Linked DNA regions of Homo sapiens: all the other regions are linked to region 2. The links come from fine-mapping of genetic effects on gene expression. A gene starts in region 2. Each other region holds a variant in brackets. All regions are shown on one strand. Distances are from middle to middle.

Evidence for each region. PIP is the estimated chance that this variant, and not a neighbour inherited with it, causes the effect.
Region 1: its variant is fine-mapped to the expression of GRAMD2B in atrial appendage (GTEx, PIP above 0.99).
Region 3: its variant is fine-mapped to the expression of GRAMD2B in whole blood (TOPMed, PIP 0.97).
Region 4: its variant is fine-mapped to the expression of GRAMD2B in substantia nigra (GTEx, PIP above 0.99).

The regions. Positions count from the first base shown.
Region 1 is chr5:126,462,713-126,470,487 of GRCh38, forward strand. GRAMD2B (GRAM domain containing 2B) reads left to right here. Exons shown (of 14, transcript NM_023927.4): 2 at 2,714-2,833; 3 at 6,965-7,076. Among named protein-coding and RNA genes, the nearest start is that of GRAMD2B, 43 kb to the left of the region's middle. The variant G/A (reference allele first, on the strand shown) is at 3,623.
Region 2 is chr5:126,420,536-126,428,310 of GRCh38, forward strand. It overlaps GRAMD2B (GRAM domain containing 2B), which reads left to right and starts at 2,874. Exons shown (of 14, transcript NM_023927.4): 1 at 2,874-3,154. The coding sequence starts at 3,072. RefSeq lists a silencer at 2,849-2,978.
Region 3 is chr5:126,484,217-126,491,991 of GRCh38, forward strand. It overlaps GRAMD2B (GRAM domain containing 2B), which reads left to right. Exons shown (of 14, transcript NM_023927.4): 10 at 186-308; 11 at 1,470-1,557; 12 at 2,657-2,761; 13 at 4,583-4,676. Among named protein-coding and RNA genes, the nearest start is that of GRAMD2B, 65 kb to the left of the region's middle. The variant C/G (reference allele first, on the strand shown) is at 5,171.
Region 4 is chr5:126,447,435-126,455,209 of GRCh38, forward strand. All of the region lies in intron 1 of GRAMD2B (GRAM domain containing 2B), which reads left to right. Among named protein-coding and RNA genes, the nearest start is that of GRAMD2B, 28 kb to the left of the region's middle. The variant G/A (reference allele first, on the strand shown) is at 4,722.

The DNA of each region.
Region 1 (7,775 bases), 42 kb after region 2:
GGTACCAGTACAAGGTATTAATTAATTAGATGCCTAGTGAGTTATAAAATCAGCAGGCAGCATAGAGACTTTTAAGCAGTGTGGAGGATGTGTCCCCTGGCTAGGGCCTTCAAGGAGAGAACCAGTGCTGAAGACAAGACACAAGTTGAAGGAGAAGTGAAGTGGAGAGTATGTAGAAAAAAGCTACTTTGAGTACACTGTATGTTCCATCCTTGAAAGACATTGTTTTAGTAGGACAATATAGAGGCATGCACTGTAATCTTTTCAGTGCTAAGCTAGGGGTCCCGAAACAGGACCACCTTATGTGGTTAAGCACTTAAGTCACCTGCACTGCACACAAATGCCTGACCAAGATGGGTCAGGGTCAAAGAGGAGCTGAAATCTAGCCTCAGTTTTGCTGCCTTCTGACCTTGGTGCTGGGCTGTTTCTGCCAAGAGCAAGAAGCACCTTATCTCTGCCAGGAGCACCTTTTGCAGAGTGGCTCTCTGTACACAAAGATGCTGTATAGGACAGCTCCAGCTCTCCCTCTAAGTCTTCATCTGATCCTGCATAAAATCCAGTAAATATCTGAATAAATGTTGAGATGGATTATTGAAGTTCTATACCCAGTCTCTACTTAAAGAGGGCTTCTCAAGTAGATTTCTGCCTGAATCTGTTGAAGAAAAGAGATAATGTGTTTGTGTCTTGGGGGAAGCGAAAAAAGGCAGAGATGTGCTTTAAGGCCTCTTAACTATTCTAAAATTCTTTGAGTCCACAAATTAAACTTGGTGCTAAGTTTAATAAAGTCCAATTATTATTTTAAACCAAAACAGGGTTTTCCTAATAATATTTCAATGCCTCAGCCTTCCATGTACCTTTGTCACATAATGCAATTCTGTTATGGACTGAGCCCTTTTAATGTATGTAACTGTTTTAAGTACTTGGAGAAAAATTGAAGAAATAGAAGGTTGGACCTCTGTCCTCAGATATGTATCTACTAGGAAAAGAGAAATGCTTACCACAAAATTAAGAGCGTCAACCATTTGGCCGGGTGCAGTGGCTCACGCCTGTAATCCCAGCACTTTGGGAGGCCAAGGTGGGCAGATCACCTGAGGTCAGGAGTTCGAGACCAGCCTGGCCAACATGGCAAAACCCCGTCTCTACTAAAAATACAAAAATTAGCCAGGCATGGTGGCGTGCGCCTGTAATCCCAGCTACTTGGGAGGCTGAGGCAGGAGAATCTTGAGGAAGGAGAATCTCTAGGAGGCAGTGGTTGCAGTGAGCCGAGATCGTGCCACTGCACTCCAGCCTGGGCAACCAGAGTGAAACTCCATCTCAAAAAAAAAAAAAAGAGCATCAACCATCTGTGGGTGTTATTAGTTAGATACCCTTGTCAGATATACTGGCCTTGATTCTGACACTACAATAGGACTCCTCGCCTAGGCTGCAATTTTCATATGCTGTGAAAAGTGATCAGCAAAGCAACCACACAGCTTAAACTATCCAGTGGCATTTCCTGCCTGCACAGTCATATGCAGGTGAGACTACCAAATAGGTGGTAAATGAAAGTGAAGATTAGCTAATCTCTCATAGCAATGCCATCTTAACATGTCTTTCTTTAGGCTCAGTCTCCATGGAGTCCTCACATCCTCAGAAGTATCGTTTGTGTTTTACTGAGCTGACACACCAAAGAAGTTCTGATCCATAAATAACATTTTGTATTCTTCCTTCAACATCCCTTCCTTTCCCACTTTCCCATTGGAAGTGGTTTCCCCTGCTTCCCAAGAGATCTTCACCGGCCGACTGAGGGAACTCACCTCTGCATCCCCCAAGCTGGTTGTCCTCTGTTTGTTGGTTCTATGCACAAACCTTCTTGACTCACCTTCCCCTCTACTCCCTTCCACCTTCTCTTTTACCAAGGTCAGACCTAGTTTTTCCAACGCCTATTGATCATGACTGTAAGTCAACACTATCCTAGACCCCGTGGTTAAGACAAAGATGAGTAAGATTCCCACTCTGCCCTGGAGCTCTCACACTGAAGAGTTAATTATGAGGATAAATGGATGAGTAGGTGGTTGGGGGGATGAATGGAGAGAGAGAACACAAAGGTTTTGCAGACAGACATACTAAGTTTGAATCTCAAGTAAGATAGATGCTAGCTCTCTGAACTTAGGCAAGATAGCAAGAGCCTCAGATTCCTCATCTGTAAAATGAGGGTAGTAATTCCTACCTAGTCTGGGTGGTTGTAAAGATTAGAGACTGTAAATTGCTTAGGGAACTGCTTGGTTAAACAACATGTAAGTGACATAAGAGAAATGCAAACAAAAGGGGTGGGGGTTCCCAGCAGGAAGGCTCACACCTGCAGGAGGCCACACGTGAGCGTGTGTACATGTGCGTGTGTGCTTGTGCAGGGCGCTCCCAGCCTCCAGGTGATCTGCTGCCCCAGCACAGCCCATGCAGAGCAGAGCTGGGCAGCACAGACCTGGGAGCCAGCAAGTCCACACAGTCTGGCATTTACAAGTGAAACAGGTGCGACCTGCAGCTACTGCCGTTGGGACACCAGGCAAGGGGTTAGAATGGAGATTGGGAAAGGGCCTCGCTGTCAAAGTTAACTAGCCTATCAGTGAGGAATGAAAATCATTCCATTCTCTAGAAAACCATGTTACTTCATCGTTTTCCTTCCAGCTACCTCTCTCTGAATGTCTAAAGTGAAGCGGTTTCCTTTCTTCTTCAGCTCAGAGGCTGAGAATGGTGTGGAGGAGAAAAAGAAAGCCTGCAGGTCGCCAACAGCCCAATCCCCTACCCCATCTGTGGAGGCGGACTCCCCAGACCAGAAGAAAATCATTAGCCTATGGTAAGTCCTCCGTTGACTCTCTTTGTTCTCTTTTGTCTTTTGGGGAGAAGGCGTTACAGGAGGAGCAGGGGTTTTTTGTTAAGAGTGAGGATGTATTAATACTATAGACAAATAATACTCCTGAGAAAGAATGAGCATTTTTCCCTGATACCCAGGTAGCATCTTTTTCTCCCTCCTGCCCCAGCCTTCAGCAGAGCATCTGCACCTTTCTGAAAGCGCTGATTTTGCTAAGTGATGAGGCCAGGGTGGACCCCTCTCTGGCATATGTTTAGAAAGCTGGGAAGGCTGGCCAGGTTGGAGTGTCTGCCCGGCCTTGGGTGTGCACACCTGGTGTCTCACTTTCCTAGGGGCCGTGAAAAAAAGCCGAGGAAAAGAATCCCCATCCCGGGGACCCACCAGGCCACCAGTTTCCTGTGACAGACTAAGAGGGAGGGTTGGTTTGGTTGTGGGGCCGGAGGGGAGAGGTGGTTTTGAGATGTGTAGCTGTAGCCTCATCTTTCTCAGAGGCACCAACTACCATTTGGTAGAGACTAAAGTTGGTAGAGACTAAAGTTGCTTTGGGGCACTTAAAAGATAGCGGTTAAACCAACAGTGTGTGATGGGTGAGTGCAGTTTATCTAAACTGAGTACAGAAATCATTGTGGTCCTTCACCATTATTAGAACTTTGAGAACTGCTACCTTCTACTTCTTTTGGTCTTTGCTAAAAGATTATTAACTCCGCTTTTTGCTTCCTTCCTGGCTTCCCAGCCCATATCTTCTCTCCAAATCTATGCTTCATTCAGGACCAA[G/A]AGTAAGTCTTAACTCCTCCCGAAATTTTCCTCTTCTGACTCTAATTCCCAATTATCTCTCCATCTTTCCTGCATGCTGTTTTGTGGCATCTCACCTTTTTTTTTTTTCCAGTCGGAGTCTCGCTCTGTCATCCAGGCTGGAGTGCAGTGGCACATTCTCAGCTCACAGCAACCTCCGCCTCCCAGGTTCAAGCGATTCTCCTCCCTCAGCCACCCTGGTAGCTGGGCCTACAGGCATGCACCACCATGCCCACCTAATTTTTGTACTTTTAGCAGAGACAGGGTTTCACCATGTTGACCAGGTTGGTCTTGAACTCCTGACCTCAGGTGATCCACCGGCCTTGGCCTCCCAAAGGGCCAGCATCTCACTTTAACAATTTTTTTTCCTCTAGTTGTTTCCCCTCAAAGCCTCACCTAATGCTTCTCTTCACAAAGGCACAAGGCACATTATTTCTCATGTCTTTTACCACTGTTGGCTGACTACAGCAGGCACCTTAAAAACACTGTTGGTTTTACTCCAACTTCCCCAGGCTTCCGTAATAATAATACACTCTCACAGGGCATGCTTGCTAAACTTCATGGGCATGCGGTTCCTGCAGTTGGAAAGGGCCCACACTTGGTTTAATGTTCCCCTCTTGCTATCCAGAAATGCTTAATAATTTTTATGTAAGGGGGCCAGGCACGGTGGCTCACACCTGTAATCCTAGCACTTTGAGAGACTGAGGTGGGTGGATAACTTGAGGTCAGGAGTTCGAGACCAGCCTGGCTAACATGGTGAAACCCCATCTCTACTAAAAATAAAAAATTAGCCGGGTGTGGTAGTGCATGCACTCAGGAGGCTGAGGCAGAAGAATCGCTTGAACCCAGAAAGTGGAGGTTGCAGTAAGCCGAGATTGTGCCACTCCAGCCTCAGCAACAGAGTGAGACTTTGTCTCTATATAAAAATTATTAATTAATAATTTTTACTTGTTTTTATTAATTAATTAATAATTTTTATATAAAGGACCCCACATTTTCATTTTGCACTGGGCTTCTTGTCACCTGTAGGAAGTGAGAATAACAGGGTTGAAAAGACCCAAAGAAATCCATATTGTATACATACATACCCTGTCCACAGGGGCCAGTGTCATGCAGATGAACCCCCTTATTGCTTGTGCCTTTTGAAATTATCAAGGGTAGAGCCACCCTACTCGTCATATTTGCTTGCAGTCCATGGATCTTCAAAAGGTCGGATCATTTCCTTGCCCATTCCATTAACATTTATTAATGGGAATCAGTAGAGGTGATGAATTCAAATCTGTGAATAATATAAATAAAAGGCAAGTTGACATTTGTACAGATAATTTTATTTTCAAATAGAGAACAAATGTTTTTTCATAGCTTCCAAAAAAATGTAATCCCTAGAATTCCCAGGGAATTTATGTCTGTGAATAGCTTCAATGGCCTGTATCTGAAATTAAACTCATTTACCTTGAACTGCTGAGGGGTATTTGCCCTGTGATTTCAGCATTGTGGAATCATACACTGTAGTGGCTAGAAGAGGCCTAGGACATCATATAGTCCATCTTTTCACAGCTGAGAAAACCAGAGCATAATTCTCTAACTTCAGTCCTTTCTGTTTCTCTGTGACACCCATGTACCACCTGAATTACTTCAGATTGTTCTTAAATCCACTTTGAACCAATTTTTTTTAACTGAACCTCATTTTAAGGAATAATATTGTGAAATCATGGATTTTGTGTGTCGTTTCCTCCCAATAAACATTAAAGCAACTTCATAATCATAAAACTTATTCATATATATAACTCCAAAAATCATCTATGCATTCTACTTTGAAATGACTGCGTTTAGCCGTAGGGTTGAAGTTACGTACAAATGTACACATCCACTAAAATGGAAAACCAGGACTAGAATCATCTTAGAAGGAAACTCTGGAGCTCTGACCTCTGTGCTTAACAGGAAAAAGGAAGACTTGGCTTCAAACATGTTTTGTGGTTTCATTTTTTTTATTCTGATTTCACTTTTATTGTATTCCCACTCTGGGATGTTTTGTCTCTTTTCCTCATACCCAATTCTTGCTTATCCTGTTAGGCCCAGCATTTTAAGCCCACATTATTCTACTGTTTTCCTCTTCTATTTATTTACTTTTTTTAATTTAACTTTATTTTTTTGAGACAGAATATTGCTCTGTCCCCCAGGCTGGAGTGCAATGGTGCAATATCAGCTCACTGCAACCTCTGCCTCCCGGGTTCAAGCGATTCTTCTGCCTCAGCCTCCCGAGTAGCTGGGACTACAGGCGCCCACCATCATGCCCAGCTAATTTTTGTATTTTTAATAGAGATGGGATTTCGCTATGTTGGCCAGGCCGGTCTCAAACTCCTGACCTCAGGTGGTCCGCCCACCTTGACCTCCCAAAGTGCTGTGATTACAGGCATGAGCCACTGTGCCCGGCCTGTTTTCCTCTTCTCTTACCTCCTGTTAGACTTATTGGCTCCATACCTTCTCCTAACTCCTATAATATGTATTTTTTTTGGTGCTAAATCATGTACTGCCTTTTTAAAAAAGTGTTTGATGCATGCATACACAGGCGCCTTAAGGATACAAACTGTGTTATGGGCCCCAAGACATTTAATACAATGCCCTACTCAATTAATACTTGTTATATATTAGTGGAATTCTGAAACAAAAATATTCTTTGATTGAACTATAGCTGCAATATTATTTAGTAATTTGCCTCAAGTACTCCTTTTTAAATACTGATTAAAATAGTTTCGTTTTAAAATGATGTAATTATTTTCACAACTTGATTGTTATTTCACCCTCTGTAAGTTACTATTTCTACAGTTTTTGATTACAGCCTGATGAAATCATTGCAGTGTCCTAAAGCATGTGCTGTGTAAATATTCTCAGAGTATCATGAATGATTTTTGATATCCAGAAAAGAAAAACAAATGTCAGGTTTTCTTAGAAGATAGTATAATAATCAAGATTTATTACAATAAATTAATGAAAAATGTATCTCATAGGCCAGGTGTGGTGACTCATGCCTGTAATCCCAGCACTTTGGAAAGCCGAGGCAGGTAGATTGCTTAAGTCCGGGAGTTCAAGACCAGTCTGGGCAACGTGGTGAAACCCCATCTCTACAAAAAAATGAGCTGGGCATGGTGGCACACACCTGTAGTCCCAGCTACTCAGGAGGCTGAGGTGGGAGGATCGCTTGAGTCCTGGACGGGGAGGTTGCAGTGAACCGTGATCATGCTGCTGCACTTCAGCCTGGGCAACAGAGCAAAACTGTCTCAAAAAAAAATTATCTTATAGACACCCTGGACTTTCTTTCTTTAGGTCAAAATCCAGTTTTGATGGTGCCTCTTTAGCAAGTGATAAGAACGACTGTAAAACAGAAAGCAAAAATGACCCTAAGACTGAAAGAAAAAAGTCTTCATCTTCCAGCCAGGTAATTTGAGAATGGAATTTGTATTGTCTTAGAGGGTGACAGGGCTACTGAAGCCAGTGACAAGAAGGAACCCAAGTATGCACCTTCCTGCTGGTCAAGACTAATATAGGTATAGAGTTTAGAGAATTTAGAAGAACAAACAGGCAGCAGTTCCTCCAGTCCATTTTTCAGCAACGTTATATTCCACAACTCATTTTTCAGCACATTGCATGGTAGTGAGTTCCATGCTGTGGCCTCGAACTCTGACAGATACCCAGAGATCAGGGACCAACACAAAGTCATGTGCTTATCCAATAATTGGCAGGACAAGGGGAGTTGTGACATCCTTGTACTGAAATTGAAGAGTCTGATAAGGCACCTGCCTGAATAGTAGTAGGCCAGCCAACTGCACACAGAGGAGTTAGACCTTTGAACAGGGTCAGGATTCTTCTCCAGAACTAATTTTGGTTCTGCTTTAAAATATACCCAGATAGGAAACAAAGCCTAGTTCTATGTCATCAGAGAGTGTGATGCATGTGCTGGGGACAGGAGTTTGGGGTTTTTCTTAATTCTTCACCCCTCTAAATACTTGAATATGTGTTTCCTAAGAGCTAAACCAAAAACCATCGGCACACCCAAGAAATTTAAATATGAAATGTATTAAAATATTATTAATACAAAATTCACTTTTGAATTTCCATAGTAGTCCCAGTAATAAAT
Region 2 (7,775 bases):
CATTGGAAGTCCTTATACCATGCACTAAAGAACTTTAAGCTATTTTAGGGTAACTGAGTGCTCTTTATTTGAGCCATAAGCCCATGCTAAGACTGCTTTGAATACTTGCCCTTACTCATGCATTAAAAGAGGGCTGACCATGATTTCTCAAAAGGGTAAACATAGACTACCATATGACCCAGCAAGTCTACTCCTAGGTATATATCCAAAAGAAATGAAATCAGGGACTCAGACAAACATTTGCACACCCATGTTCATAGCAGCATCATTCACAATAGACAAAAGCTAGAAACAACCCAAGGGTCCATCAACAGATAAACGGGCAACCCAAATGTGGTATATACATGCAATGGAATATCATCCAGCCAAAAAAAAATGAAATTTGGATATATGCTATGACATGGATTGACCTTGAAAACATTACACTGAGTGAAACAAGCCAGACACAAAAGGAAAAATATTGTATGATTCCACTAATGTGAGGTACCTAAAACAGACAAATTTATAGAGACAGAAAGTAAACTAGAGGCTACCAGAGGCTGGGAGGAGGTGAGAAAGAAAGAGTTATTGTTTAATGTATTTAATGGGAGTTTATGCCAAGGATGATAAAAAAAAGTTTTGGGTACAGATAAGTGGTGATAGTTAAATAACATTGTGAAAGTGTTGAATGCCACTGAATTATACACTTATTAAAATGATAAATAGTAATGTTATGTATATTTTACCACAATAAATAAATTACTTAGCGGGGAAAAGTCAGTCTGATCTGAGCTCTGTAATGAGAAGTTGGAGTGCACCTGAGATCTGAGAGTCCTCATCCAGAGTTTGGGAAATTGACAACCTCATCTCTGTTCCAAACCTATCCCTATTCTGAGGAGGGTGGGGATCTAGAGGTGAAGGCATCAGGAATGTCCCCAGGAAGAGGCAACTATGGGCACCAAGGAGACAGCCTTCAAGCTTTCAGGTCACCCAGAGTTTTCCCCATCCCACCTAGCACAGCTCCTATAGCAAAGCAGTCAGTGGTCAGGAAAGAAAAAGAGAGAGAGGCCTGACTAAGCCAACTCTTCTGGAATTTATGTAAGCTTTTTCTTTTACTTATTTTTCAAATGTCACAAACATCAATTTTGGAGCAAGCAGGCTACAAAAAGATGCTTTTGTTCTCTCAGCCTAATGATATATATGTAAAAAGAGAAGGAATAAGAAAACTTTGGAAAGAACTTGCACCTCCAAAATGTTTGAAGTTATTTAGAAGGTTAGGTGTTTTACACACACATACACCCTACAAACTACATACATACATGTACATACTATGGTTGTATAGTCTTTGTAATACTCTTAAATCTAAACTTTATTTTAAGAGAAAAATGAAGGACTTGCAGCCCCAGAACATAGTTAGTCGTTTTTTCCCAGGCATGTCATGCTCTACTGTTGCCACTTGTAATTGTTTTGAAGTCAAGTCAGGCTTCCAATAATAACGTTTATATTAATTATTCTAATTGTCAACTACTCCATTGCAAATTAGAAAACCACCAATACAAATGTCATTTGCTATAACAAGTCAATGTTTATACAAGCTTGCCCAACCTGCAGCCCAGAACAGCTGTGAATATAGCCCAATACAAATTCATAAACTGTCTTATAACATGGTGACATTTATGCACGGATTTTTTTTTTTTTTTTGAGACAGGGTCTCACTCTGTTGCCCAGACTGGAGTGCAGTGGTGCATCTTGGCCCACCACAACCTCCATCTCCCAGGCTCAAGTGATTCTCCTGCCTCAGCCTCCCAAATAGCTGGGATTACAAGCGCCTGCGCCACCTCACCCAGCTAATTTTTGTATTTTTAGTAGAGATGGGGTTTCACTAGGTTGGCCATGCTAGTCTCGAACTCCTGACCTCAAATGATCCACCCGCCTCGGCCTCCCAAACTGCTGGGATTACAGGCGTAAGCCACCGTGCCTGGCCCCTGCACAGACCTTTTTTAAAGCTCATCATCTATCCTTAGTGTTAGTATATTTTATGTGTGGCCCAAGACAGTTCGTCTTCTTCCAATGTGACCCAGGGAAGCCAAAAGATTGGACACCCCTGATTGAGAACAATGCCTGGAACTTTGTAGCTCTCAAAAGTTTGTTCAATGAATGAATGAGTGAATGCTTCCAATACAAAACCTTAGAACAGGCAAGTCAAAATGTCACCAAAAGGTGGGAAGAAGAGGCATTCACGGTACTGGTTGAGTGCATAGTAAATAAGGTACTTGCACAACTATGGGCAACAAAGAGACGGCTTGGGAATTATCAAACACCAATTTTGATTTTGATGAGAACAGTCATAACCCAATATTTGAAGATTTTGATGGTTGCTTCTTCTTTGCCCCTCTAACCACCCCCCCCACCCCAGAACGATGAAGGGTTAACCAAAACACCACCAAAGGCAACTACTTATTACCTTTGTTATTCCCACATAAAAAATTGAGCAGACCTATTGTTTAAGCAGAAGAGGCAGTCCCTCAATGAAGCAATATCCTGTTTGAATAATTTAGGATGGGGCATAGGCCAGCCCACACAGCGCATTTGTGTGACAGGGCGTCCCACTCAGACGTCTCCATTTCCGGTATCTAGAGCCGGCTGCCCTCTAAAAATCCCCCTGTTACAGTCGGGATAGAAAACAAAAAGCTTAATTTACCAGGAGGCTAAACAGATTGTGCCTTCTTAGGCAAATGTTCCACCTGCTTGGCCAATTAGCTTCCTCTCCCGAAAGACTCGTTCAACAGGTTTCCTTTTTCTCTTCTCTGCCTCCTGGGTTGGGGAAAGAGGCTGTCACTTCGCTTCGACCCTCCCCTTCCCTCCCTCTCGGCTTTTCCACAGTGGGTCGGACCAATCGCGCCCGCTCCGACGTGTCCAGGTCCGCGGCCCCGGGAGCTTGGCGCGGCCCGGCCTGGATGCGCTGGGCGGAGGGTGCAGGGGAGGGCACGGCGCCGCTTGCTTGGCCTGCGCACCCGGACCTAGAAGCCGGGACGAGCCGGGGCAGAGCCAGGCGCGCGGAAGTCTGAAGGTGCCCTCCAGACACGGCCCCGATGACTGAACTACAGCAAGATGTGGAAGACACAAAGCCTGCGAAAGTGCTCGGGAAGAGGGAGAGCAAACTTGGCTCAGCCCAGTGAGTATTCTCAGCTGGGACCCATCCAAGGAGGTGGGAGGAGCGCAGCCTAAACTTCTCTGCCCCGGGACGCATTTTGGGTGGATGCGGATTTCTGGAGCTCCTATATGGACAATCTTGTGGCGCGCTCTCTCTGTCTCTCACTCTCTCTCTCTGTCTAGATATTCAGTTAAGGAGATGGTTTAGATTGATTGAAAAGTCTACTGTAGGATTTAAACAAATTCTCTTAATTCAAAACTCACTGGATGTTGGGAAAATAATTTTGTAGAAAATAAGCCTAACCACATTGAAGCTCAAAGTCCCAACACAGCCCTTCGTTTAGAATGACCATTTTCACAAATTCATTTTAGTTCAGCAAATAATTGAGTATCTACTTGTTCAATAACGATGGGCAATACAAGGATAAATGTTATTTTGGATCTGCCCTTCTGGAACTTCAAGAGCAGAGTGGGGATGGGGGAGGCACAAATGAATATTACTGTACTTCAAGGGACTTTGGTGACCATTGCCACATTAAACACACAGACAAGGTATGATAAAGAGTTTAGCCTATAATTGAGTCTTCTCTACTTTTAAAATATTTATCTATTTTGCAGTCTTTGGTAAAATTGGTTTGGGAGGAGAGGTTGTTTTTTTCCTACAAAGTGGTATTTTCTAAGCCTACTGAAGTCACTTCTAATTCAGTCTATGATTTTAGACACTAACCCTTCTGAGCTCTAAAACTCTTGTTCTGGTATCAGGATATGAGTAATTTAGGAAGGAGGGATATGTATTATCATAAGGTTATACTGATGTGATAATTCCACTTTGAAATCATTTTAAGTTGCCAAATTTTTGTGCTTAGAAACCCGGTCTAACTTCTGTTTTGAACTTCATAACTTACATTAATTATCACTAGGCTCAAAGTCTTGTTGAAGTCTGGGTGTCCCCATGGACATTTCTTCTAAGAGGATTAGAATGACTTGCTCCTCACAATTTCCCTGCGTCTGTAACTGCACCCATGTAGACCTCATCACCTAGAGCCTTAGCCTCCTAAATAATAGTAGCTGGCACTTACTGAGAATGCTTACTATGTGACAGGGAGTGTGCTCAATACTTTAAATGCATTCTCACAAAGAATGAGGCAGGTGCTATTATTTCCATGTTGCAGATAAAAGCACTGAAGCTCTGAGAAGCTAAGCAGCTAGGCAGAGTCACAAAGTTAATAAAAGAGCAGCCAGGATTCAAGCCCAGGTCTCCTAACTTTACAGCATGAACTTAGAACCACTATGCTGTACACTGGTTCCTCTGTTCCAGAATCTATGATGGCCTTCCATGGCCTACTCTTAAAAATAGGCTTCTCTGCCAAGATTTTAAGATCCTTCATGATCTGGACCCACACAGACCATTGCAACCTCACTTCCTAATACTAGTCAGCATGCACATCTTTTATAGCCAAACAATCATACTAGCAGCCCTATACTTAAAGGAGTGATATGCAGCACTCCCATGTTCATTGCACATTACTCACAATAGCCAAGATATGAAATCAACCTAAGTGTCCATCAACAGATGAATGGATAAGAAAATGTGCTATATACACAAGATACGAAATCAATCTAAGTGTCTATCAATGGATAAAGGGATAAGAAAATGTGGTATATATACACAATATTATTCAGCCTTTAAAAAGAAAGATCATTTGTGACATGGATGAACCTAGAGGACGTATGTTAGACAAAATAAGCCAGGAATAGAAAAACAAACACTGCATGTTCTCACTTAAGTGTGACATCTGAAAAAGTTGACTCAGGCCAGGCAGGGACTGTGGCTCATGCCCATAATCCCAACACTTTGGGAGGCCGAGGCTGGAGGATCACTTGAGCCCAGGAATTTAAAACCAGCCTGGGCAACAAAGTGAGACCCTGTCTCTACAGACAAAAAAAAATAAGTTAAGCATGATGGCGCACACCTGTGGTCCCAGCTGCTCGGGAGGCTGAGGTGGGAGAATCTCTTGAGCCCAGGCAGTTGAGGCTACAGTGAGCCATGTTCATGCCACTACATTCCAGCCTGGACACAGAGTGAGACCCTGTCTCAAAACTAAAATTTAATTTAATTTAAAAATAAATTTAGAAGTTGGATTCATAGAAATAGAGAGTAGAATGGTGGTTTCCAGGCGCTGGAAGGTAGAAAGGGTGGGGAAGGAGGGAATAGGGAGTTGATCAGAGGGTACGAAGTTTCAGTTAGGAGGAATAAGTTTTGAGTTCTATTGCACAGCAAGGAGATTAGTGAATAATAATATGTTGTATATTTCAATATAACTAAGAGTAAATTTCAAATGTCTCACCATAAAAAATGATAGGTAAGCAAGACCATAGGTATGTTGCTTGATTTAATCATGCCACATTGTATACATATACCAAAACATTACCCTGTACCCCATAAATGTAAACAATTATGATTTGTCAATTAAAAATAATATTAATTTTAAAATAATTTAAAAATATATTTCTTATAAAATTCAAAAAAAGAAGTGATATGCAGAAGGAATAAGGAACTGGTATGCCAAACATAGGAGCAAATGAATCCCCTTCTGTCTTCACTTTTCCTTACTGCTATTCCTTTCCCCTCTCTCCTCTCTCTTCATCTACTTCTAGAAATCAACTCAAGTTTTCCTTCATGTGAAGCCTTCCTTCATTACTGGCCATACTCATCTCTTCTTTACCAGTGCTCACCTTGTACATATGTGGCTTCCGCCTCATAGAATTTATCTGCTGTTATTATGACGATTAATTAACAATTAATGTTTATTGACAGTTTAGTTTGTACAAAGTACTGTTTCAAGTTGTTAACATATATTAATTCACCCACTAATCCAGTTGTATTAGTTATCTTTCCTCTAAATAGGTTGCAGACTCAGATTACATTTTTCCTTATTGAATTTCTCAGAGGACCCAACCAACAGTCACTTTCAAGTACCATCTGTTGGTGAGCTGGGGAAGCTAAGACCCCAGACCCAGTAGTTAAGATATATACTGTAATACGCTTGTAGCTGACATTCAGCTTGACTATGTCAGGGGAAATTCTATGTTTAAAATTTTTCTTAATCACATTTCCTATCAGTAGCGGTTAGAATTTCTAGGTACATTTACTTGCCCGAGAGCTGTGGCTAATTTGTTCATCTTTGTGCTAGAAGGTGAAGCTGCTGATACACTCATCACCGAACTGCATATTTGATTAAAAAATACAATGAATCCCTTTCTGACCAAGAATAAGTACTTTAGCTGTATATTTCCTTTTGAGATCCTAATTTTCTCCACTTTTATTACCTTTTTCATTCTGAATTTTATGTTCCCAGTACTTTAATAGTCGTAGCGTAGCCAGACTTTTTTTGACACACATTTTTGTTTTCCTTCAAGAGGCCAGAATACCCTTGCTCTAACTTTTGTTTGTTTGTTTGTTATTTAAGTTCTGGGGTACCTGTGCACAACGTGCAGGTTTATTACATAGGAATACATGTGCCATGTTGGTTTGCTGCACCCATCAACCCATCATTTACGTTAGGTATTTCTCCTAATGCAATCCCTCCCCCAAACCCCTACCCTTGACACACATTTTATGAAACACACCTTTATTTCTTAAAGTTTCTTCTGGATCTCATTTAGTAATATCCAGGTTACTTTTAATGAATTTCAACAAGTACCCAAATACCCAAAATGATGCTGATATATTCTGAGCAAAAGTTATCTTGATTCATGTTTCAAATAACGAATTAAATTACATGTAATATCATTCAAATTGCAATTTGAATTTTTAACATTTGAACTTTAATAACTTGAGGTGTAAGAATTTTAGAAATATGTCCAACTCCATACGGATGTAGGAAAAGGATAGATGTGGGCAACAAGAACATTTACCTTAAAAGGAAGCGCTCTGGTATTATCAATAAAGGTTGGTTATTTTTAGTATATATTTTTACTTAAAATAGTGAATTCAAGTAAAAATAAATGACCGCAGTGGCAACATCTCTCATCTAAACTATCCATCTTTGTGCATGGCATGTTGGAGTACTTGACAAACAGAACACAGATTGAAGTTGGGAACTGATCCTGAATTAGAAGCAAGAGAAATAAAGGCAAATAATTGTTGGACCTAACTCAGTTTCTTAGTGCTTACTTAATTCCAAACTTTGAAAGCTCCCATTTAGCAAAAGAAGATTATCTCTCTATCTATGTATGTGTGTGCATATAATTTTTTTTTTAATTTCCAGGTCATCAGATCTGACAGGCTGGGTGTGGTAGCTCACTATAATCCAGCATTTTGGGAGGCCGAGGCAGGTGGATCACTTGAGGCCAAGAGTTTGAGACCAGCCTGGCCAACATGGTGAAACCCCGTCTCTACTATAAATACAAAAATTAACCAGGCGTGATGGTTCATGCCTGTAATCCCAACTACTAGGGAGGCTGAGGTGAGAGACCTGGGAGGCAGAGGTTGCAGTGAGCCAAGATCATGGATCATGCCACTGCACTCCAGCCTGGGCAACATAACAAGATCCAGTTCACTTTTCATTATAAACTTTGGGGTAGGAAAGAATGATGTATAACATGTTTTAACATATATTCACCCACTAATCCACTAAATA
Region 3 (7,775 bases), 64 kb after region 2:
TATCACTTTATTACTTATTTGCTTAAGCATTCAATTTCAGCCCCAGCCACCACAACTAACTTGTGAGACCATCCATTCACATTCTTGACCATTATGCATGTTAAGGGATTGATTTACTTGGAGATTAATCCTGTTTTTAAATACATTGGAGAGAACACTTACCCAGCTCTGTTTTGGCTTAGTAGATTTCCATGCGACAGAATCCCAAACAGTTCTGAATGTCTCCAAGGGAGAAGCAAAGCCAACTCGGGCAGATGCCCATGTGAACAGAGTACCTGAAGGAAAAGCCAAGAGTCTCCCTGTACAGGGTAAGGAATGGATGTCTCAGGGGGGTGGGTTTAGAAGGATTGGAGATGTCTGTTTGTAACTTTTTTTTTTTTTTTAGACAGCATCTTGCTCTATCACCCAGGCTGCTGTAGTGCAATAACATGATCTTGGCTCACTGCAACCTCTGCCTCTTGGATTCAAGCGATTCTCGTACCTCAGCCTCCTGAGTAGCTGGGATTACAGACGCATGCCACAATGCCTAGCTAATTTTTGTATTTTTAGTAGAGACAGGGTTTCACCATTTTGGTCAGGCTAGTCTCGAACTCCTGACCTCTAGTGATCCACCCGCCTCAGCCTCCCAAAATGCTGAGATTATAGGCTTGAGCCACCATGCCCGGCCTATTTGTAACTGGGTTTCACCTTATGACTGCTTTTCATATTCCCTTTCCTCCCTTTGTATTATAGGTCTTTGCATATTAATTCACTTATTCTTTTAGCAAACAGTACCCAGTTCCGTGCTTACAGTGGGGGATACAAAAGTGAATAGCCTTCATGGAGGTCACTTCATGATTCTGAATACATGAGATTATCTTTCAAAAATTTCTGTTACTGTAACCCCAGCACTTTGGGAGTCTGCGGTGGGAGGATTGCTTGAGTCCAAGGAGTTCAAGACCAGCCTGGGCAACATAGTGAGACCCTATCTCTACAAAAAAGTTAAAAATCAGCTGGGTGTGGTACATGTTTGTAGTTCCAGCTACTTGGGAGGCTGAGGCAGGAGGATTGCTTGAGCCCAGGAGGTCAAGGCTGCAATGAGCTGTGATCACGCCACTGTCACCTGGGCAACAGAGTGAGACTATCTCAAAAAAATAAAAAATTTTCCAGTAAAACTCAAATTTCTTATTTACTAATTATTCTAATAACTAGCTATACTGGTAAGGGAGCAAGGATATTGTTATATTGTCCATCATTGATTCCAGTACAATGCTTGACACAAAGAAGGCTGTGGATAGGTATGTAATCAATGGAATGTGTTGGAAGGAATTGTAACCACTGGTTAAAATGACAACTGGGAGACTTGATATTTTCTCTGATTTCTTTTACCTGGGAACAATTACCTCTCTCAAGTACCCCATAGGGATATTGCTGGATAAAAGAAGTGTGTTATGGTTTTAAACAGTTGTTTTTTGTTTTCCTCCCAACAGGTCTGTCAGAAACTGTTGGAATCTTACATAAAGTCAAGTCTCAGAAATGTCCGATGCTTCACCATATTCTTATATTCTATGCAATTGTGTAAGTACATGAATTTACTGTGAGTGACTAAGAAAATGATTCCATTCGCTAAAGGAATAATCTCTTCACACTGCCAAGACCTACTGTAAATCTCAATTGTCTGAAATGTGACCTACATCTTTACTTTGACAATTTCTGTCTCCTACTTCAGGTTTTTTTCCTTAGGCTTAGGTCACATTTTCATGGTTGTGCCAAACCCTGCAGAGGACTAAGTTCTGAGTGGGTACCATTAGTTGGGAAATTGCTCTGTGAATTATGAAGCATCTTTACCCTTGTTATTTTTTTTACCTTATTTTTTTAATTGACATATAATCATTGTAGGTATTTATGGACTACATAGTGATGTTTTGATACATATAATGTATACTGATCAGATCCGGGTAATTAGCATATCCATCACCCTTATCATCTCTTTGTGTTGAGAACATTCAATATCCTTCTTTTAGCTATTTGAAACTCTATCATTGTTAACTTTAGTCATTCTACAGTGATATTCAACACCAGAACCTATTCCTTCTATCTAGCTATAATTTTGTTTTGCCATCTGTCCCATGTCCCCTGAACAGGGGCCAACACAACTTGAAAATGTTGTCCTCATCCCCTTTACCAAAAATGTAGGCATAGACTTTTTTAACTTCTAGCGTGTAACCAATTGTTCTTCTGAAAATAGCCTGACCCAGTTCTAGGCTGTTCCTCCCAACCAAGGAAAATATGCCCAGTCTGGTTTCCAGATAAAGGAGGGAGTCACCAGAGAACATGGCTAAGATCTGCCCAGGCTCTTCTGGCAGAGGACGGTAGTACCGCAGGGAGGAGGAACACTGGCTTGGTACTCCAACTTGGGTCTGGCTCTGACCAGTGCTATTAGAAGGGCCATTATTTGCAAATTAAGGGACTTGGGCTAGAGGATTTTAAGTCTCTTCTAGCTGTAAGTTTTATAACAAGCATCAGCCTGTTTAAAAAGGATGTTTTTAAAATCTTTTTACCAAGTTATTTTGGAAAATACCTTGCCTCGGGTGTACCACATTGGCACTGAGTTGTTTTATGAACATCAGATCCTGGCCGTTAACCTAACGAAAGTTTCTCTTTCATCCGTTTCCAGTGTCTGTGCACTAATCATCTCGACCTTCTACATGAGATACAGAATTAATACTCTGGAGGAGCAGCTGGGGTTACTAACCTCCATTGTGGACACCCATAATACTGAGTAAGACGATTGCCTCTAGCTGTCATCTGCTTGCCATTCTGCTTAATATAATAATTGACCTGAACTTAGCATCCTTCTTAGTAAACATTAATTGGAGATACATTCTGTATGTGACATTTTGTTAAGTGTATATGTGGAAAGTAAAAAGGTAGGAGGGTCTAGAAATGAATGACCTAACCCTGTACTATTTTGGAGTTGTGGTAATGTTGCTAGTAATAAGGCAAGAAACAAGCCTAATTTTACATTATCTTGCTCGAATATGCTAAGATGCAGTTGTGACCTTGCCCCATTTATTAAACTACACAAGTTTACCTTAGTAAAATGGCAATAAATCAAGACACTCAGAGAAAGAAGCAATTCAAGAAACTCAGCACATTTTATCATGTATAACTTTTTATATTAACTCACTTATTTGCAAAACTCTTGACCACTGTCAAGATCAATGTGACTAGTAATTAATTGAATGTGTCTGTGAAGATTTTCCATCAGTCTTTTTTTTAACATGCCTGGCCTAATTAAACCTTTTCAGACATAGAGCTCTTTTCTTTAAACCTATTTACAAGAAGCTTTTGACACATTGCCTAAAAAGTGAAATAATTTATGCCATGTTAGAAAGTGTACATTTAGCCCAAGTTTTTGAAGTAGAGATATTTCCTGACAGAGTATTCACCACATGCTGAAGGCTCTATTAGAATGGATACATACACATACAAATACAGATGATTTTTCCTCATTATATTTTCACCATAACCTTAGAATAGAACTGTTCCCATTTTACAGATGAAGAAACTGAGACTCAGAGTAATAATTAGTTTAATGTCTTACAGTTTGCAGATTCAGCTGCAGGTCTATATAACTACAAAGACCATGGGCTCCTCAGTCTACCAGTGGCTCTCAAATTTTAATTTGCATCAGAATTATCTAGAATTGTTTAAACAGATTTCAGGGCTCATCTCCAGAGTGCCTGATATAGTAGGTCTGGGATGAGGCCTGAGAATTTGCATTTCCAGCAAGTTCCCAGGTGGTGCTGATGGCAATGGTCTGAGCTCTATACTTTGAGAAATACTGTGTTATACCATTCTAGGACCTTTCTTTACTCCATAGGAATTACCTTTAGGTGGCTTACATGTATGCAGGCATACAGGTTATTTTTGACCCATAAATATACACTTGAACTAATAAAATACAAAAGCCTAATAAACAGTTTGGTATGGATTCATACTCTGCCCTTAGTTTCTCCCATCTTGTTCAAAAAGTTAATATTGGCATAGAGATAAGAAGTGACTCCAGGCCAGGCACAGTGGCTCACGCCTGATTATGAGACAAGGGCAATTATAGTTGTATGATAAATCTCAAAGAAGAAACTACAAAAGTCTCGTGTTTCAAGGGACATTTGATTAACTAGATAAGGACATTCCTAAACTTGTAAAGTTCTAGTATAAATAGCTCAAAAGTACAATAATTCTTGTAAGTTTATGCTCTGGTGGAGACAGAAAGGATATTAGGGGTTAATAAAAGGGTTCTAAGAAACCACGTGCTTGAAAATAATTGCCTGATTTTTGTTTAGAAGCCGAAACACACCATATCCACTTAAACAAAAATAGCTTAAGAGATTTCCCGCTGAGCTTTTAAGAATTAGTTCCCTAAACATCTAGCCTGGAGTTGCGGATTACTGCAGGGCTTTGTCTAATATTAACAAATGAAATGTTCATTCTCTTCTATTATAAACCAATTTTCTGTTCAAATAAATTTTAAATGTGTTCATTCCACTTCTTTCCTTGTCATCCCTGCCCATAATAATTTTTCTCTTTTTTCTTACAGACAGGCAGCACCATCTGGCCTGAGGTCACAAGTACAATTCAATGTGGAGGTTCTCTGTCAAGAGCTTACAGCTAACATAGTGAAATTAGAAAAGGTGACCTATTTCTTTCCTGTGTATGGGGGCAGTCACAGTAGTGCCTGTTGGTTGCCCTAGGTCAGGTCAGGGATTACACACTCAGACGCCGTTAGTGTGCCGCAATAAACCTACATGATCAACCCTGGCTAGGGGCTTTTTATAGTAAATGTGGAAGAATATTTTTTATTTCCACAAAGAAATAGGTCTTAATCTCATTTTCCTTGAAATACATAGTCTTGTAGGTCTTTTGTTCTTCCTCCTTGATTAGACATATTACTTAATAGCACAGGGCCCAGTGGTAAGTGACTACTGACATCGGAGCTTAATGTAGGGACATAGTAGGGAGTGAACTGGAGACCAACCACTGGCTTGGCCAGAAAGTACAGCCCCAACTCCACCAAGGCTGACTGTTCCCATAGGTAAAATATTGCATGTAAGTCCTATTAGAACCATGGAAGATAGACGTCATTGTTCCCTATCTGATAGGGGAAGAATCAAGAGTTTCAAATTAG[C/G]TTGCTGAAGGTGACACACCTAGAAAGGCAGCAGACGTGAGTCTGCTGAGAGAGCATTAGAAGAAAAATACATAAATAAAGTCAGCAGATCTGGAACCTGAACCAGGCCTGTCTGACTGCAAAGTTGTGCTTAGAAGCTCTCTGCTTTACTGTTCCTCAGAATTCAGCTTTAGGCTTTGTTGATAAGGCCACAGATGTACCTTTACCTCAAAGTATCTACAGTCCAAACAACGCTAGGGCAAAACTGTCCTTAGCCTGTGGCATTCTTAGAAGGCAGCAGGAGGGTGAGCTGGAGAAGAAGATAGGCATGCCAGAAATATCCCAGAAATAAACCTGATTTACATGTCTTATTTTCTTCTCCTTTATCTGATAACTACTTTGTTTTTACCCTAATCCTTCAGGAAAGGCTTAGAGAGAATTCAGTGTTCAATTACAACTGCTGTCACAAACGCCCAGTATCTGGTAGCTTTACATCATAGTACAGTTATGCTTACTTGGGAAGACATATTTCTTCATATTAAATACAAATTAGTAAAATTTCATATTAAATACAAATGAATAAAATTATCTTTGTTTTCCTACACTCAGTGTTAGTTAGTATTTAACAGCTAAAGTATTAAGAGCAAAGGAGTTTCCAAACTTATGTTCTAAACCAAGTCAGGTCAGAGAATTCATATTAAATCATTCTATTTATGGGCAAATGTAGAAAGTTCTTTACATCGAGAATCAACCTAGAGAAGGTATGAGTTAGCTTTCTTCCTTTCTAAAACATTAGTTTCTGAGAATTGAAGATAAACGATTTTTTTTAATGAAATGCTTACAAATGTTTGGCTTTCATGCAACCCAGAGAATGAAGTGGTATTAATTTTCAATTTTGTTCACTCTTACATACCAGTGATATTCTTTGGATTAGAAACACATGGGATCCTGCCGCCTTCTTTTGTGTTTCTTCCCACTCTCCCGCTGGGCCTGGCCGGGACACCACATTCTGTAACCAGGGAACTGAAAACAGAAGAGCTTGTTCACAGCAGGCAAACAGCCTCAGGTCTTGTGCAGGGTTCAGACAGCTTAGCAGGGAGGCCGGGGAGGTTTACAGGAGCACCAGTGGAGACTACCTTTGTCTCAAAGCAGAAACTGATTCAGTAAAAAGTGGATTTGGGGTCAAAATGCGCGTGTTGATGTTCTAAAAAGTTAGAAGTTGCACACATTGCTCAAAAGAATCTAAGTATTAAAAAAGAGGTACCAGGCCACACCCGTGCTCTTTTTGATTCATCTGCACCTTTCCTCAGAGGCAGCTGGGCACTAGCGCAGCACAGCCTGCCGGTGAAATAGCAGCTCCATGCTGTTGAAGGTCTTATACTCCATACCAGCAATTCCTTCTTCTCACCTTCGGGGGCCGGTGATGTCTAAGCCTCATGATCTTTCTCTGCTTATAACTTCCCTATTTCTGTTCATGGCATCACTGCTCTTTCAGTCATCCTCATTGGAAATCTAAGAATAATTTTTAACTCCCTCTTTCCACCTGCCACTGGTTGACTAGTTGGCAAATCCAGTGAAGTCTGTCTTCAAATGTCTCCTCAAAGTTTCTTCCCACAGGTACCATCCTAGTCCATTCAGCCTTCCCACTACCAGTCAGATAGTGTGAAGCTGGATCTCATTGTGGTTTTTGCTTGTATTTTCCTAATTATTACTGAGGCTGAACATCTCATATATTTACTGGCCATTTGGGTTTTCCTCTGTAAATTGCTTAATTCTCTCCTTTGTTTTAATTTTGGGTTTTGTGTGTGTGTCATCGTAGGTGTGTTTTGTGGATTTGGGATGTCAGTTCTTTGTTTTATTCCTTTTTCTACCTCCCACTCCTGTTTTTCCATTTATCTTTGGTCCTGAGGGATACATGAGGAAGAAACAAAGCAAGAAAGTTGGGGAAGAAAGCAATGTCTCTTACGGGAACTGAAGTAAACACTTATTTTCTTAGTTCTGGAAGTGGAATTAATGGTGGAACAGTATAGTAGAAAGAGCATAAATGTTGGAGTCAGGCCTTTGTTCTTATCCCTGCTCCACTGCTTACTACCCACATAACTCATCCTGCTACTTCAGCTCCCTGGCCCTTGGTTTCATGTGTAAAGCCTGTCTTTGTGTGGTGTTGTATGGCTCAGGAGCAGGCATGCCTTTGCTGGCACTTACATATCAGATCCCCTTCCTCCTCACTCACCTGAGAACACCCATAGGACATCACAGACTGTTCCTCTAAAAAACAATATGTTCTTTCTTTTCGTCTGCAAGGTTTCTACTCCCATCACAGGGCTGGTTGTTGAGAATTCCTTGCTCTGAATTCTTTTTTTTTTCCTTCTTTGTTTTTTTTCCCAAGACAGAGTCTTGCTCTGTCACCCAGGCTGGAGTGCAGTGCCGCAATCTTGGCTCACTGCAACCCCCACCTTCCAGGTTCAAGCAATTCTCCTGCCTCAGCCTCCCAAGTAGCTGGGATTACAGGCATCTGCCACCACACCCAGCTAATTTGTATATTTTTTAGTAGAGACAGAGTTTCACCATGTTGGCCAGGCTGGTCTGGAACTCCTGACCTCGTGATCTGCCCACTTCATCCTCC
Region 4 (7,775 bases), 27 kb after region 2:
GGCAGATCATGAGGTCAGAAGATTGAGACCATCCTCGATAACACGGTGAAACCCCGTCTCTACTAAAAAAATACAAAAAATTAGCCGGGCGTGGTGGCGGGCGCCTGTAGTCCCAGCTACTCAGGAGGCTGAGGCAGGAGAATGGCGTGAACCCGGGAGGCGGAGCTTGCAGTGAGCCGAGATCGTGCCACTGCACTCCAGCCTGGGCGACAGAGCAAGACTCCGTCTCAAAAAAAGAAAAAAAAAAAAAAAGAAAGAGATCAGAAAGCCTGGCCTTTAGAGCTGATTTAAGGAACATGAAGTCCTTAAGGTAAATGAATTGAACCTTTTTGTGGGGATACAGAGATGTGAAAAGACCAGGATCCTGCCCTCCAGAGGCATATGGTCAAAGCAGGGCAAAGACAAGTAAACAGTAGCCCATTTATAATTTTTTTTTTTTTTAAAAAATAGTCTCACTCTGTTGCCCAGTTTGGAGCACAGTGTGGCATGATCTCGGCTTACTGCAACCTCCGCCTCCCAGGTTCAAGCAATTCTTCTGCCTCAGCCTCCCAAGTAGGTGGGATTACAGGCATGCACCACCACATCCAGCTAATTTTTGTATTTTTTAGTAGAGAGAGGGTTTCACTGAGCAGGCTGGTCTCAAACTCCTGACCTCAAGTAACCCACCCGCCTCAGCCTCCCAAAGTGCTGGGATTACAAGTGTGAGCCACAGCACCTGACCCCATTTATAATTTTTAAATAAACCACATACTAAAGTGATACAGTTGCCATGACAGTCACAGGGTACTGGAAAGGAGCACAAAGAAGAAGAGGTCAGTCCTTAGGACCTAGAGGGGGTTGGGGAAGTTGCCAGGTAGGAGGTGACCCCATCAAGAGCTAAATCTTGAAAGATAAACAGTGCTTGCAAGGGACCACAGAGAAGGCATGGCAGCCCAGGAGGAGGGTGCTTGGGGGCAGCATGACAAGAGGTTCAAAGCCAGAAAGGGAGGCTTCACATTGCAGAGGACCTGTTTTCTGTACTCATCTTCAGCTTTATCCTGTAGGCAACAGAGAACCAAAGGGGTTTTAAAGGAGGAGAAGGAATGATATGATCATATTTGGGCTTTACAAAGATCACAGAGCACAGTGATCTTCCATATAGATGGAAGGAGGAGGGGTCACATATAACTCAAATGAGGTAGGGAGGTATAGTGGTCCAGGCAGGAGGCATTAAGGACCCTAGCTAAGCCAACCAAATTAGGGAAAGAAAAAGAGGGGACTTAACTGGAAAATATTAAGGAGGTAAAGTCTACAGGTCTTGGTGTCTGACCGGGCTTGGAAAGAGAAGGCTAGTCATAGTATGAGAGTAATAGAGGCTTCAGTCACTAAGATTGGAGTTGTGTGGGCCCTCAGCGAACTCATCTTTGTTTCCTTATTTGTGAAATGTGGATAACACCTGTCTTACATGCCGGCCTCAAACACCTGTCTAACACACCTGTCTTTCATGCCTGCATGAGGGTTAGTGTGGTATCATGGTGTCACGGGTATGAATGCTTTTTGAACGGCAAAGCACCATGCAAATATAAAGTCATCCGGGAAATCCAGTAGAAAGGAGTGGCAAGGAAGAGGGAAGAGGCAGAGATGTGTTTTCCAAAGCGATGCGTTTCAAGTCCAGATAGAGAAAATGCATATTTGTGGTGGGAGAAATTAAGGACAGTAAATAAAGATGTCAAATATAAAATTAAAATCTTTTAGATCCACTGCTTATTTCCTTGAAAGTGGTACTGTCATGTACAAATTATATTCAATCTAATTCTTCTATCCCGTAAAAGTTAGTTATATTTAAAATATTGGGGTAAACATTTTAACAGCAGTGAGGAGCTATCACTAGTTCCACAATTATTCCATATCTTGATAGTTGTAATTAAAATCATGTATATTTTTACATAATAACAATATGGAATAATTCTATATTGTTGACACTAACATGACAAACCACATGGATAACTTCTAAGGAAAGCCAAATACAGATAAGAGACATTTACATCCTTAGGTAGATTAACACCTTTGAAACCTCACAATCTGAAATACTAAAACTATACTCTCTTATTTTTCGCCATGGGATATCATGAGCTTCTTTTTCCTTACGTATGTCTAATATGAGGGTGTTTTGGTTAAATCAAAGCCTTTTACATAAAACTGCTTTCACCAATATATAGATATATTCCACTTTTTTAAAGTGACAGTGTCTTTCTTCTCTAGAAGTTGAGTCCCATTAATTTTTTTTAGAAAAAGAATCCTGAGCTGTAATAATACTTGGCATTTAAGCAAAGAGAATTTTCACGTGTGCTGCTGATGCCCGTGTTGATTCACTTGGTGGGATATGGCATGAGACCGAAACCTGGCCTCTGGGAGAGTCCTGTGTGTCACATCCTGTGAACACCCTACTCTGTCCTCATATGTGTGTGGCTCTGCACTGTAAGATCAGAACACAGGAGACTGAGGAAGTAGCAATGCAGAGTTTGAGTGAGGGAGAAACAAAGCGACAGGTTTCTGGAACTATTTTGGACTCCCGTAGTAACTTTTAACTCTGCTACAATGCCCATGTACTTGGTCTTTTAAGCTCTCTCTGGCTTTTGATCTCTTTTTTTTTTTCCTCCTACATGAAACAGAAGACAGAGTTACAGGAAATGAAGGGTATAGGAGGAAAGAAAGAGCTGTAGTTATCGTAGATGCCAGAGTGGTAAGAGGCAGCTCTTCTTTCAGGGGCTTAGCTGAGGGCCAGAGTAGTACAGCTCGTCTCCACGGGGGTGGAGAGGGGTGCCTCAAAACAAAAGTGAACATTTCTCTCTTCTAAGTCGGCTTCTAATGGCCCTGGTTTTTGTCTGTTTTAACCTAAAAGGTTATTGCACTATTAACAGGTAAAAAATTCTCTTCTGACCAAATACATGTATTTCTAGCATAATATATTCTCTCTCTCTCTCTGGATAAAATTTATTAGCATATCAGCATAAACATAATTTTTGTAAGGTCAGACAAGAGATTTGAAGTGTAATTCAAGGGGAATTTGTATTAACGTAATGAAACATTCTGCTGTGAAGTTTACTAGCAATGCCTCACTCTGGGTTATCATTTCTGACTCCTCCCATTTCCTTTCTCACCCGTCACCTGGCCTTCATTCATTCTCTGTCCTAGAAGATAACCTCTAAAACCAGTGACAGTCCATCCAGCCTGCTGTTAAAAAAAAAAAAAAAAAAAAAAAAAATGTTGCTCACTCTGTCCCGGCCAGTCTGGCTCTAGCGTCAGCTCAAAGGGGCCCAGGTACAGCTCGGGCTGCCACTCCATAGGGTGCAAGCTGTAAGCCTTGGTGGCTTCCATGGGGTGCTAATCCTGCAGACACACAGAATGCAAGAGTGAAGAAGTCTTGACAACTTCCACCTAGATTTCAGAGGATATTTCAGAAAGCCTACATACCCAGGCAGAAGCCTGTCGCGCGGCGTAGCCAACACAAAAACTCTACTAGGGCAGTGCTGAGGGGAAATATGGGGTTGTGCCCCCACACAGAGTGCCCAACAGGGCACTGCCTAGTGGAACTGTAGGAAGGGGGCCACTGTCCTCCAGACCCCAGAATGGTAGAGCCTCTGGCAGCTTGCACCCTACATCTGGAAAACCCACAGGCATTCAACTCCAACCCGTGAGAGCAGCCAGCGAGGCTGCACCCTGCAAAGCCACAGAGGCAGAACTGTCCGAGGCCTTGGGAGCCCACTCCTTGCACCAGTGAGCTCCATAACTTGATCTTGAACTTCCAGCCTCCAAAACCATGAGAAATAAATTTCTGTTGTTTACAAGTATGTTAGTCCATTTGCATTGCTATAAAAGAATACCTGACACTGGGTGATTTATAAAGAAAAGAGGTTTAATTGGTTCACAGTTCTGCAGGCTATACAGGAAGCATGGTGTAAACAATCTCAAAAGAGATTGTTTTGGAGCTTTAAGACTTAATGACTGCCTTGCTGGGTTTCAGACCTGTGTGGGGCCTGCTTCCCCTTTCTTTTGGCCGACTTCTCCTTTCTGGAATGGGAATGTTTATCCAGTGCCTGTACCACCATTGTATCTTGGAAGTAAATAACTTTTTTTATTTTACAGGCTCATTAGTGGTAGGAGATGAGTCTCTTACGAGACTTAGGACTTTAGACTTGATGCTGGAACAAGTTAAGACTTTTGGGGACTTTGGGGAAAGTATGATTGTATTTTGCAATGTGAGGACGAGATGTGGGGGGCCAGCGGCAGAATGATATGGTTTGGATATTTGTCCCCTCCAAATCTCATGTTCCAGTGTGATTCCCAGTGTCAGAGGCGGGACCTGGTAGAAGATGATTGGATCGCAGCAGTGGATCCTTCACAAATGGGTTTGCACCATCCCCTTGGTGATAAGTGAATTCTCACTCAGTTAGTTAATATGAGATCTGGTTTTTTGAAAGAGTCTTGGACTTCCCCTTCTCTCTCTCTTGCTCCCACTCTCACCATGGGATGTGCCTGCTCCCCCTTCGCCTTCCACCACGATTGTAAGCTCCCTGAGGCCCTGACCAGAAGCAGATGCCGGCACTATGCTTCCTAGACAGCCTGCAGAACTGTGAACCAATTAAACCTCTTTTCTTTATAAATTACCCAGTCTTGGGTATATCTCTATAGCAATGCAAATGGACTGACATTCTTGTAAACAACAGAAATTTATTTCTCAT[G/A]GTTTTGGAGGCTGGAAGTTCAAGATCAAGTCATCAACAAATTCAGTGTCTGGTGAGGGCACATTTGCTGTTTCATGGATGGCTGTATTTTGTTGGATCCTCATGTGGTGGAAGGGACTAATGAGCTCCCTACAAGGGCATTAATCCCATTCATGAGGGCTCTACCCTCATAATCTAATCACCTCCCAAAAGCCCCACATCCTAATGCCTTCACCTCGGGGGTTAGAATTTCAACATGTAAATGTTTGGTGGACACAAACATTCAGACCATAGCACCTGGTTTCCCTGACATTACTCTCTTGCAATACCCATCTATCAAAAAATAGACAATACTTTTCTCCTGAGTATCAGGTTCATAAACTGTCACATCTCAGGAAACCATGGCAGGGCCTTTTATTCCCTAAATTCAGAAGCACCCTTATCCGTCCATCAGTAAGTCTAGCCCCTCAGCCACTCTATTCCTTATCATTCTACTCTCCTGGCAGTTCTCATACTACAGACACCACTTCTCCTTGGCATTCCTGATATATAAGTCAGTTCTTTCCTTTCTCCTCCTTTGTATACTAGTAGTAGAACCTTTTATGACTCTTGCCTGAAGTTCTCATCCTCACAGTTTTGTTCTCTCTTTGATCTTCTGTTCCTTTAACATGAGGTTCCAAATTGGTTTCCTTTATGATAGACCTCACTAAGTAATGAAAAATTTCAGTTTCTCTAAGTATGTTTTTCTGGACTTTATGCCCTATTCTTTTGCATTTCTATCTTTTTGTTTGGGTAAGCTTTTCATTCTAGTTAAAAACTAGTTCTTTCCTAAACACAGTCTTCAGAACAAAAAACCTTAATCAAATAGATATCCTCTAATATATCTTAGGTATATGAAAAGTGGCTCATTGTGACATCCAATTGCTGGTGGAGAAGAGCCCCAAAAAGGAACGAAGATATGAGGCCAAGGTGGGCAGATCACCTGAGGTCAGGAGTTCAAGACCAGCCTGGCCAACATGGTGAAATTCTGTCTCTATTAAAAATACAAAAATTAACTGGGCATGATGGCACATGCCTGTAATCCCAGCTACTTAGGAGGCTGAGGCAGGAGAATTGTTTGAACCCAGGAGGTGGAGGTTGCAATGAGCCAAGATCACGCCACTGCACTCTAGCCTGGGCAACAGAGCAAGACTCCATCTTCTCCATCTTAAAAGAAAAAAAAAAAAAAAAAAAGGAATGAAGACAGAAATTCAAAAAAATGCTTAAAGTCCCTGCCCCTAAAAAGGTTATAGTCTAGTTTGGAGGAGATATATTCAGTATATGTTTTTAGGAAGTTTATTATGCAATGCAAAATAGCATTCATGCACTGAGGCTGTAAATAACAAAGGAGAATTCACTATCAGCAGCATCAATCTTCCTTGGCTGGAAACTAGAAAAGTCCATTGCTACCTCCTTGCTGCATTTTACAATTTACTTTGTTATTTTCCAACTGTGCTTGGCCTCAAAATGCTACTGCTGTGAAGTTAGTTTGATGAAAACAGTCTTTTCAAGTTTCCATATGGTTTCAAATTATTACTCATCTAACTAATAATCAGTTTGAAAAAATAAGTTTGCACACAATGCCAATTCAGCAGTGGGGAAAATTAAAAGACTGGCCTTTTTCTCTTGCTCCCACCCCCTCTTCCAAAACTTGTCAGCCACACTTGGGAAGGAGTTCATGAGGTAGGTTTTGAGATAAAATTTAAGCCCAAGCCCTTTTTAAAATGCTAATTGTTTTCCTGTATTGCAAATAGATGTCTAGGCAATAAGTATTAATTGCATAATTTCTTATATTATTGATAATAAAGAGATGGAAGTCAGTATAAAAGTGGGAATGTAATTGGATTTGTTCAGAATCTGGTATGATGGGTTCCTGTGTGTAGAGAGGAGGGAGCAGAGAACTGAGAATCAACACATAGAGGAAGGACAGAACATGATATAAGTGCGGCCAAGGTAAGACGACCAACATGGCTGGAACAGAGAATTCCTTTTGAAAAGAAGAGGGAGATTGCAAAACTGGAGGGTCTTGGCTCGTGTCCAGATGCCTCGATCTGGTGCTCAATAGAAAGGCATTGTTAACTCTGGAGCAGTGGCATGACATAATGGAGGCCGTGTCTCAGGAGGATGAATCGCACATTGATGTCCCAGAATCTTGGAGAGGAAGATCCTAGAGATCATTGCTGTGCGTTCCAAGGGTGGAAGGGAAATCACTGCAGCTGCACCCACTGTCCACTGTTGACTTTGTCTTAAAGCAGTGACAAAAGCCCTTGGGAGCTGTTTGGTTGCTTTTTTAAAAAATCAAGCTAGTTTGAGTTGGGTTTCTGTCTCTCCAAAATCAGAATCTTAACAATTAATTGCTTTTTGGAGTTATATGAGTTGCCTTAGGCTTTCAAAGAGACATAATATTTTAGGAAAACAGAATTAGGAGTAGATATAGAGGCAGGAATGAATCACATGATTGTTCATGGGACAATGACTTGTCCACTTTCATGAGAACAGAGGGGTCTTCTTTGAGACCATATTAAAGAGGTTACTGGAGCCAGATGGTGGCCTCTGCTAAACCATTTCTCTAGCCCTGCTATTGCTGCTGGTGTTTAGGTATTCATTTTTGCTACAGCAGTGTGCTTGAGACTCAGTGGAATTAGTTTCCAAACTGGCGGAACCCCTCCTCTGCAAAATCTGATATTCTTTTTATTGTTGACCTATTTGGGGCTCCTTTGGTTTTTTTAGATACAGTTTTCTACCTGCTATCAATATACATCTATTATGTCTAAAACTAAATTTACAAAATCCTTCCCACCAAACTACAATTTCTCTTGTGTTCCCTGTAACTGTTAGTGGCAATGCCATCCTCTCCATCCCCCAGATAACCTTGGTGTTCTTGGATGTTCCTCTCCATTGCGTGCTCTCCCTAATCATTCCAATGTTGTCTCTGGATTTTCCCTCCAACGCAGTGTCTGCTTCTTGCCTTCAGATTCACTCCCTACCTGCCTTTCTGTTTTCTCTTGTCTCCAGCTTCCACCCTCCCTTGTTCTT